2 separate regions of the Homo sapiens genome follow, and region 1 is linked to region 2. The links come from fine-mapping of genetic effects on gene expression. A gene starts in region 2. The other region holds a variant in brackets. All regions are shown on one strand. Distances are between the middles of the regions.

Evidence for each region.
Region 1: its variant is fine-mapped to the expression of TCTN3 in prefrontal cortex (GTEx, PIP 0.97).

What each region holds. Positions count from the first base shown.
Region 1 is chr10:96,414,505-96,419,883 of GRCh38, forward strand. All of the region lies in intron 7 of TLL2 (tolloid like 2), which reads right to left. Among named protein-coding and RNA genes, the nearest start is that of OPALIN, 58 kb to the left of the region's middle. The variant T/G (reference allele first, on the strand shown) is at 2,984.
Region 2 is chr10:95,690,535-95,695,913 of GRCh38, forward strand. It overlaps TCTN3 (tectonic family member 3), which reads right to left and starts at 3,393. Exons shown (of 14, transcript NM_015631.6): 1 at 3,110-3,393; 2 at 2,819-2,942; 3 at 2,386-2,504. The coding sequence starts at 3,365. It also overlaps a transcript of ENTPD1 not described here. RefSeq lists enhancers at 3,098-3,377, 3,852-4,353.

The DNA of each region.
Region 1 (5,379 bases), 720 kb after region 2:
GACAAGAACCACTTCTGCTTCCCCTTCAGTGATGCCCCTTGGGTTTCTGCCCTCTCCCTCTGTCCTCTCTCTCCATATTCCATCTGCTCCTACGGCTTTTAACCATCATCTGCAGCCTCACAGCTAATCCTCTGTTTCCAGCCCAGGATCCTCTGCTGAGCCCCAGATGCCTCGTAACACCTCCCCTGGGCTGTCCTATGGGCCTCTTATATCCAACGTGCTCAAAACCAAATTTATCACAATTCCATCCTTCTCCTGCTCACTCCATGATCCTTGTCTCCTGAGCCTGAATCTGAGGGCATTCTCAGCTCCTCCCTCTCCCTCATACTCTCCTACCAAACCAGGAGCCAGGTCCTGTCCACTCTACCTTTTTTGCACCCCTTGAACCCATACCCTCCTCCTTGTTCCCAGACCATTGCCATAGCTCAAGTGATCAACACCCCATTCTTGAACTCTTTCCAGTAGCTTCTTAACTGGCCTCCCTCCCTGTAGACTCAGCCACTTCTACTCTACTGCTCCCCTTGGCCACAATGCTGCAATGGAATCATCCCAGAATGCAAGGGGAGGCACGTGCCTTTTTTGCTTAGAACGCTTCACCAACTTCCAGTCACCACTTGGATCTCTAGGCTGTTTGCTCACTGACTTCTGCCTTCCTCTCCAGCCTGACTCTTTAATCCCATAACCAAAAGAATACTTAACAAGAATAAAGCATATGTCATTATTTTAAGCAACACTGAGCTCCTTGTAGGCCTCAAATATGCCCTTGCACATGCTATCCGCTCCCTAGGCTGCCCATGCCCTCTGTTTTTTTGTCTGTTTGCAAACTCCTATTCATTCTCCAAAACCCCATCAGATGTCTTTCTCTATTAAAAGTCTTCCCCAAGCCTTTTCTACTCCTCCCATCTGGAGTTTATCATTCCCTGCTCTGGGTCTTAATCATTTGTGTAGTCTCTTCTTATCATACTGTATTGTTTTTCTTAAGGAGTGATGGTATTTGTCTTCTTTGCTAAAAGTAAGTTCCTCAAGCAGGGAGACTGGGTGTTTTATCTCTGTCCTTAGAAACTACAGCACAGCAGACCTCAAAAAATGCTTCTTGAATTAAATATGCAATCAGGATAAAGCACTGTCTTTTAAAAACTTTGCAAAATAGTTATTTACATCCAAAATGGAAGTGAAAATGTACATATGTCACCTAGCTATTAGCTGTGCATGCTCTCTCTCTCTGTCTCTCTCTGTCTCTCTCTCTCTCTCTCTCTCTCTCTGTCTCTCTCAAGCACTGTTTCTATTTCCCTAAATTCTGCACTACATTAGAAAATACCTATTACCCCTGGTTCTTCCTGGTTACATCACTTTGTTATCTTTTTGTTTTTGTGCAGACTTTTTTTTTCTAAATCAGATTTCAAGCTCACTTTCCAACCTTAGCCTGTGGGAGTATAGATCATCTGCTGATTTCCTGTTCAGCATCTCTGTACCCAACATGTAACCCTTGACCTGTCTTTCTCTAGCTCCCATAGCCTCATTTTTGAGTCTGGACTCCTGCAGAGAAACTTTAGTGGAATCCTTGGCCTCCCTCACTGACTTTACCACATTTTAAACCACAAGTGATGACTCTGCAGAAAATCCTAAATTCAATCATTAGCTACTCCAAAAACAGGCACTTCTGCCCTAACGAAAGGTGTGTCCTTTTGTAATTATTTTCTTGGTTCCCTTGCAGAAAGGAATTCTGCAGCACAAGCATAAGGATCACACAGTCTATAAGCACCCCACGCTACCTGGCCACATCACGTAGATGACTTTGCCAGCGGGCCTGGGGCATAGAGGCCATGTTCTTGCACTTACTCATCATTCATAGGACTTTCCGATGTGCCAGGCCCTGCACTGGGCACTTTCCTTGCACCAACTCATTTCATCTTCATAACACCCTAGGAGTCAGGTGCCATTATCACAAGAGCTCTCACTCTACAGGGGAGAAGACTGAGCCTGCAGAGCTTAAGTGACTTTCCCAGGGCACAGAGGTAGTCATGGAGAGGCAGGCCAGGAGCTCACCTCTGGGAATCCTCCTCCTTCCAGCCAGTGTTTCCTGCTGCCCAAGGAACAGTAGGCCTTATGATACATTAAATTATAGAGCTAAGAACATTGCAGACTTCAAAAACCAAAACATCAGGAACAACATTGGCTCACACTCAGACCGCTCTTTGGTGCTGGACGTCCTCCCTTGCGTATCCTAAGCTGCCAGCAAGAGCTTCCAGCTGTTTACTACAAGAGCCGTCCCCTGTGTAAACCACAGCGGTGACGTTCCTTCCCTCTTTCATGTAGGACAACTCTTAGCATTGACATTCTGCTAAACTAAGACAGAGTTCAGCAGATGCCTCAGGGAATAAAACTGTCAGTTCTGAGTTCTGAAACAAAGAGGCCCCTGTACAAGAGAACTGTCTCCTCATCTCCTGGATCTTTGCCCAGCAAAACCTCCAAAGAGACCGCTCCCCACAGCCTGGGTCCAACCAAGGGGGAGGGGAGAAGAACTGCAATAAACTAGAGAGAATGAAGTTGGAAGGAGACAGCTCAATCGTAAAGAGACACAAGGATTGAGTTTCCCATCAGCAGGGTATAGCATTTGCCCACCTCCCCAGATCAGCATATGTTCCATGGGCTCTATTCTGCCCTTTTACAGAATCCAACATGAGGTACAGGCCAGCTTTAGGGTCTTTGTGACCAGAAGTAATGACATGGAGTTGGGAGCGGGGAAACTATTGACAAAATGCTCATAGAAAAGCTCCCAGTAAAAACCCAGTGAACAAAATTGTTTTCCGAAAATCCAGGTAAAAAGTTGGCAGAAAGGACAATGCAGTCATCCACCTGCAACAAAACAGATTTGCTGAAACCATTCTGAACTCTGGGGCAGAGGTGACAAGGCAGCAGTGGCAGATTGTTAAAATAAAAAGTCACTCCTCCTAATAGCCAAATCCTACTGCAATGTGAAGCT[T/G]CCATACCTCCCAGTAAGAGGTGGAGTCTATTTCTCCACTTGCTTGAGTTTGGGGCTGGCCTTGTGGCTTGCTTTGACCAACAGAATGTGGCAGAAGTGATGTCATGCAAGTTCCAGAGCTGGGGCCTTAAGAGGCTTGCAGCTTCCCCGCTTGCTCTCTTGGAACTGTGAGTCCCCATGCAGTGTAAAGCCTGGTCTAGCCTACTGGAGGATGAGACGCCACATGAAGGAGAACCAAGGGGCTCCCAGAGAGAACAGAGGGGCATGAACAGGCAGCACCAAGTGCCAGGCGTGTGACTGGTCATTCTGGACTCCCCAGCCCAATCAATCTGTCAGATGACTGTTGCTGTGAGTGATCCCAGGAAAGACCAGAGAAGAACAAGCCTGACTAACTAACCCACAGTATCATCAAAAATAATAAGCTGCTGTTTTAAGTCACTAAGCTTGGGGGTCAATTGCTCTGCAGCAGTAGCTAATGTAACACTAGCAGGAGGGGCTGCCTGCCCTCGGCGAGCTGCTCTGCTCCTAGCTGCCCATCCTCCTGTGTGCTGCCCCTGCTGATCTCCCTCCTAGAGATTCTGGGGAATTTTGATGAGGAATTTTTATTTCATGGGTTTGGCCCATGGATTTCCACTGGTCTGGGCTGATGGTTCACATTGACAATAGCATTAGAAATGGTTATCCCCTGAGGGACAAAAGGCATGGTATTATGAGCTAGCAATCCTAGAAAAAAAAATACATATATATATTTCAAAAAGAAAGACAAGAAGAAACGCTGGTGCTGGAAGATCCTCTGCCTGCATCCTGTCCTGGCCTCTGGCTCCAGAGCTTGTGCAGTGCCTGGCACGGAGCAGGCGGTGAGAAGGCAGTGCAGTCCCTACAGCACACAAATGCCCTACATGGTACAGACTTACAGATTCACCTTACTAAAGTAGCCATCGCATTGGTGAGCACATGGAAAGAACTGTAATGAGCATAATGGAAATTTCTACCCTCACCTATTCCCCAACATTGCAGGTCCTCCTGGCCCCTTTGAACTCATTCATTAATTTATTCATTTAGCAAATGTCTATTGAATACCTACTAGGTGCCAGGCACTATGTTGGGTGCTGGGGACTAGAAGAGAATGAGATAGTCTCTGTCCTCAAGGATCTCAGTCTACTGCCAGAGAAGGGAATACAACAGATACATATGAATGTATATGAATATATATATGAATATATATGTATATATAAATATATAAATTAATATATGAATTTATAAAATAATAATTATTAATAGCTAAATTAAATGAATATTGATTTCATTTGAATATATAAATTATATGAATATATAAATTGAATATATAAATTAATATGAATATATAAATTAATAATTATTAATAGATAAATTAAAAAGCAATATGAAGAGTTATGGCAGCTACAGAAACAAGACCCAAGGAAAAAGCTTCTCCCTTGGGCCAACTTGACATAGATTCCCTGACAAAATTGATACTTGGTCTCTAGTAGCAGCCTGTAACTCCTGGATGATGGGGTGGGCCTTTGGCTATTCCCTGCACCATTTCCCAAACAGGTGAATCAGCCCACCCCAAGACCCAAGCATTGCCTCCCCCTTGGATATTTGCACACTGCACTGGCGTCCTGAGATTCCCTGCACACAGCCTCAGGGTGGATCCCTCAATGTCTCAGTTTCCTAATCTGGAAGAGGAGGCCCTTCCAGCTTCAGATTTCCTGTATGGCAGTGAATGAGATCATAATCTGTCAACCCCTCACCCATCTGCATCGGATTGAGAAATTGCAACTTGAAAGGTTAGAGCTGGAAGGGGCTCAGAGAACATCTAGTCCAACCCTCTCACAAGGAAACCAAGGCCTGTGGAGGTGGAGATTTAACCATCACACAGCTGCCCCTAATTACTGTCTGCCTCCCTCAAAGGCAAGGGGTCACAGGAGAACTATGACTAGAACCCGGCTTCTGCCTCTCAGTTCAGTGGTCTCTTCATCACACCATGTTTCTTTTACTATCTTTGGAAAAGAGCCAGGAGAAGGTCAAAGAGGCCAGGAAGGCTCAATTTCACGCTACTCCCAAGTGCTGTCGAAGATGCCAGCTTTAACACAACTCCACCCATGATAGCTCATGTCTAGGTGCAGGATAGAGATCATGACTTAAGCAGCTGTGTGGCCAGAGGAGCAGTACCCCCTGAGAACTTGGGATGCTGAGATTTAGAGGATTTCTCCCATAGTCCTATCAACAAACTCATCAACAGGATGCTTTTGGCAGCCTTACCCAAGAACCAAGGAGCCCCTGGCAAACAGTGTCCCTTTCACTCCCAAGAGCCATATGTTTTCTGAGCAAATGAATTCCTTTCATCTTTATGGACATGGAGACTCATGGAATGG
Region 2 (5,379 bases):
ATAGAGTCAGAAAGAAAAGCAAATACAAACTTGGGAAAAATACAGGGCATATCTTGAGGACAACGAGTAGATGAGTTCAGCCAAAGCAGAGGGTCAAGTACAGAGTAATGCTAAAAGAGCCAGGAACACTAAGTTGGATCAAATAGGAGATCTGACAGGCTGGCTAAGAAGCTGGATGTTATTTTATGGATAGTGGGAAGTAATGGAGGTTTCTCAGTAAGGAAGCAACATAATGCAATGTTATGGAAAGATTTATCTAGTGAAATGATTCTCCACAACTGTGTATACTGTGTGTAGATGCTATGTGTGTATATGTGAGGAAGGTAGGTAAATAATCAGAACCAAAGGGAAATTTTTGCCTTTTTCATACTAAACATGAATGTACACCCCACCCTCGTTCAGGAAAAAGTTCATTGATGTAATGAACCATAACTACTATTGGAAGTGGCCATATTCCTCCCTCAGGTGTTTAAAGAAAGTTCAGATCCACTGATCCCGAAGGAGTGTGCAGGATGGTGTCGGGGGCAGGAGTGGGGATCAAAAGCAGGGAGCACCAGGTAGGTGCCATTGCAATAACCCTGGAGCATGATCATAAGGCTGGATTTAAAAGGCAGTAAAATGTTTGGAAAAGAAGAGACAACTTTCTTTTTTTGAGACAGACTCTCGTTCTGTTACCCAGGTTGGAGTGCAGTGGTGCAATCTCAGCCTCCCAGGCTCACATGATTCTCCTGCCTCAGCCTCCCAACTAGCTGAGATTACAGGTGCCCACTACCATGCCTGGATAATTTTTTGTTTTTTTAGTAGAGACAGGGTTTCACCATGTTGGTTAGGCTGGTCTCAAACTCCTGACCTCAAGTGATCTGCCCACCTCAGCCTCCCAAGTGCTAAGATTACAGGAGTGAGCCACCGCGTCAGGCCACAACCTTATCTGAAAATGAAGTATTCATCTTGTTCCCTTTACCCTATTACCATCTAAATAACCACAAGGCTTCTGATAACTGCTTTGAAATTCAAGTCCCCCAAAACCAAAAACTGGTTGTTTTCTGAGACAAATATAGTTTTGCAATTCTTATTAACAGTCAGATGAAATCAGGATGAGGTGACTTCCAGGATGCAAGAGACATTTAAATCCATTTTGTGCAGGAACATTATTTTGCTTCATAGACATTTTAAAAAGATAGATTAGCTTCATATCTTTAGAAATGTTATAGCCATCACCAGCAAATTTCTAAGTCCACTAACCATCCCCAATAATAATAACCTCTAATCTTTATTGTACTCTACAGTTGTAGAGCGCTTTCATATACAAAGCCAATGATATTATTTCTCACTTTACAGTTGAAGAAACGAGCCTGGAAATGCTAAGGGATTTGCCCAAGTCTGTATAGCTGGTAAGGAAATGGCAGGACTGAGATCCTAATCTAATGCTCCTCCTACACTGTTGCCTCATGAAATGAAAATAAGGTTGGCATAGACTCATTTGTCAAAGATGTTCATTCAAACATTATTTGGTGCTTACTATGTGTTAGGCACTGGGGATTCAGTTAGTACCCTCATGGAGATTGTAGTAAGTGGGGAATATAGTCTATCTGTGATTATCTGAGTTAAGAGGAATGATTAAAATGATTGAAATTAAAGTTCTTTATGAGTTTTCTGATCCATAGCCAACAGAACATAAAAAGTTGCAAATGTGGCCAGGCGCGGTGGCTCACACCTGTAATCCCAGCACTTTGGGGGTCGAGGTGGGTGGCCCATGAGGTCAAGAGATCAAGACCATCCTGGCCAACATTGCAAAACCCCGTCTCTACTAAAAATACAAAAATTAGCTGGTCATGGTGGCACACACCCATAGTCCCAGCTACTCGGGAAGCTAAGGCAGGAGAATCACTTTAATCCGGGAGGTGGAGGTTGCAGTGAGCTGAGATCGTGCCACTGCACTGCACTCCTGGCGATAGGTGGAGGCTCCGTCTCAAAAAAAAACAAAAATGCAAATGTATTCCGTAATAAGAGAGAAGAGGCAGAAAGAGGCGTAGAGATTCAAAGGACAAAAAAAAAAAAAGTTTAAAAAAAAGAAATGGAAAAAAGGCCAGAATAAAAGCCAATTCTCAATAAATGTTAGACCAAGCTTGTCCAACCTGCAACCCACCGGCCGCATGCAGCCCAGGACGGCTTATGAATGCAGCCCAACAACACAAATTTGTAAACTTTCTTAAAACATTTGACATTTTTTTTGCTTTTTTTTTGTTGTTGTTTTTAACTCATCAGCTATCGTTAGTGTATTTTACGTGTGGCCCAAGACAATTCTTCTTCCAATGTGGGCCAGGGAAGACAAAATATAACACTCCTGTGTTAGAAAATGAGAACAACCAACATGTTTCTACTCACAGTTGTTCACATGGACACAAAACTGCCTGATTCCATTAGAATCCATGAAAACTCTTGAAGGAAACGGGGAATTACTCCTGAAGATAACAGAGTTGTCTACACAAACCCAGCTTGAAGACCTGTGAGGAAAGAGGAGGGAGAAGATATATTTAGAAGGGGCGGGGCAGGTCCAAAAAAGAGTGTCCCAGCAATATCGGCCAGATGATGCCAAAGAGGACTCCTTGGGCACCTATAGGACGACACGAAGGTCTTATTCTACTGGCCAGCCCTGCTCTAGAGAATCAGAAAAGGCAATTCCTAGGAAAAACCAAGGGAATGTCCTAGGAGTGGAAGTACGGGTGGGAGGCACAAAGACTAACTCTTCTTACATCCAAATGTTACCCGTTGTAGGCCCCAAACCCCTTTAGGATTCAGTCTGAGCAACGAAGCTCACCTTACGCTGCCTGGAAGGCAGAAGGAGAAAACTGTCCTCGGATGGAGAAGATAGCAGTCCCTGTCGCAGCAGCAATTTATATCGCAGGCTCCAGGAGTCAAGTCACAGACACAGATCGGTAAGACTATGAAAGTACGACACAGAGTGAGTGGGATGAAGATCCCCAAACTCTCCCAGGTGCTCACCCTCCTTCTTCCGACAGCCCCACTCCTGCTTTGTGGCAGCTCAACTTTGCTCACAGAATTTTAGATCTCAGAAGTAAGTTTCCACCCCCACAACGTTTTCCCTCACCTGGGAAGAGGTCCACAGTCCTATTCCCAGGGGCCGAGGGAGTCACGAGAGTAGGGACCACTGTAGGGAGTCCAGGCACGGCCGGGCGAGTTGCAGTCGCCTCTGAAGGGGACTGGAGGGTTCCGCCATCCGTCCCTCGCTGCAGCTCCAAAGACGTGGGCACTGCCCCTGATGGGGAGGAAGAGGGCTGAGGCCGGACGCCATCGGGGAACACCAGAAAGAACACTTGCAGGAGCGCGAGCTGTGGGGTGCGCATGGGGCATTCAGGGCCTCCGGGTCCGACGTAGGCCTCCGCGGTCTCCAATCGCATTGCCAGAGCGTGGGTGGGAGGAGTCGCATAGCGTCTGACGCCATCCGCGTGCCTCTTCTCATTGGCTCATGAGAAGGCTGAGAGCTCTTCAACCAATCGAAAGTGGGGTTGTTACAGCTCTTTCAGTGTCCTTCGGTCTGCGCCCTCCTCCTTAACGCGGGCCGGGCCGTGCCTCCGTTGCCTGGCAACCGTCAGTGACGAAGAAGCCCTTGCGCCTTCCTTCCGCTAGGTGGCGGTAGGAGTTCGGCGGACCGAGAGGTTCCGCGCCCACTTCGCGGCCCAGAGGACTGAGCCCGGCCTCCGGTGCAAGGAAACCCCAGAGGCCGGAACTAGAATTGCAAATTTTTTTTCACCCCGGATTCCAACGGTGAGAAACCCTTTCTATGGAAGAATAATGTTCTCAGGTGGGGGAAACACACCTAAGGTCACATACCTTAAAAAACAGTCTCCTCTAAATATGGCTTTTTTAAAAAAAAAAAAAACACATTAGAAATAATGTTCATTCAGCTCCTTACATTTTAACATTGAGAAATTTTGAAAACCCTAAAGAAATGCATCAAATCATTAAAGATGGACTGCATGTTTGTTGTTAGAAAAAGCAGTGAGAGAAAAATAAGAAAAAAGGGCAGGAAAAATGTGAGAAAATAGGGAGAGAAAGAATAAAAAAAAGAAACATTGTCTAGGAGGTGAGAAAATAAGATGGAGGAATGGAAATAGAAGATTTTTTTCCCCGTGTTAATGGCAAATTTTTTAAGCCTCTCTAGGAGGTTTTTGTTCTTCCCGGGAATGGCGTGCCTCTTCCGATTCCCCACAGCAGCGCGGGCCATGGGACTTTCCTTCGGTATTGGAAATGTACCGTAGCTGCACTGTCCAGCATGGTAGTCACCGGCCTTATGTGGCAATTGTGCGCTTGAAATGTGGCTAGCGTGACTGAGGAGCTGATTTTTTTTTTTTTTTTTTTTTTTGAGACGGTGTTTCGCTCTGTCGCTCAGGCTGGAGTGCAGTGGTGTGATCTCAGCTCACTGCAACCTCTGCCTCTAGGATTCAGGTGATTCTTCTGTTTCAGCCTCCTGAGTAGCTGGGATGACAGGCACGCGCCACCACGCCCGGCTAATTTTATTTTTATTTTTAGTAGAGATGGGGTTTCACCATGTTGTCCAGGCTGGTCTCGAATTCCTGACCTCAAGTGACCCTCCCGCCTTGGCCTCCTAAAGTGCTGGGATTACAGCTGTGAGTCGCTGTGCCTGGCCTGAATTTTTAATTTTTAAATTGTAATTAATTCAAAGTTAACCACAGACGTGAGTAGCTACCATATTGTACAGTGGGACTGTAGATGATCAAAATATTGCTCCTCCTAGACCCAGTATTTTCCTATGTCCACGGTTCTGACATCTGGATTATTTTGGATATTTAGTTTTAGTATATAAATTAACATCTGTTAAGAGTTATCTAAAATCTAGTACACTTACCTAAAATCTGGTCAACACCTCCCTTTACAAGTGAATCATTTAACTCAGGTAAGTTTTAGGACATTTGACTTTACTTGAATTCTCTTACAAGATCTTTATTTTCTAATGTTTTGAAGTCAGTAGCTAAAAGTCTCTCTGTGTTATAAATATTTTCAAATATGTTTTTATGTTGTTGTGTGATAGACAGCTATGGGAGATATGTGTTTGGTCTTAAAACATTTATTTACCTTATTAGTAATTTCTATAGGAAAAGGCCAAGTTCATATTATTCAGATTATATGATCATATGTATATACTAGAATGTAAATTCCAAAAATAGTGAGTTTTGTCTGTTTTGTTCATTGAAATATCCCCATGCCTAGAACAGTGTCTGGGACATGTTAGATGTGCATTAAATATTTTAAAAATATATTAAAAATTGTTTTGTTGAACTCTTTAGAATTAATCCTTAGGAATATTTTTAGTTTATTTTATTTCAGGATTGTATTTCT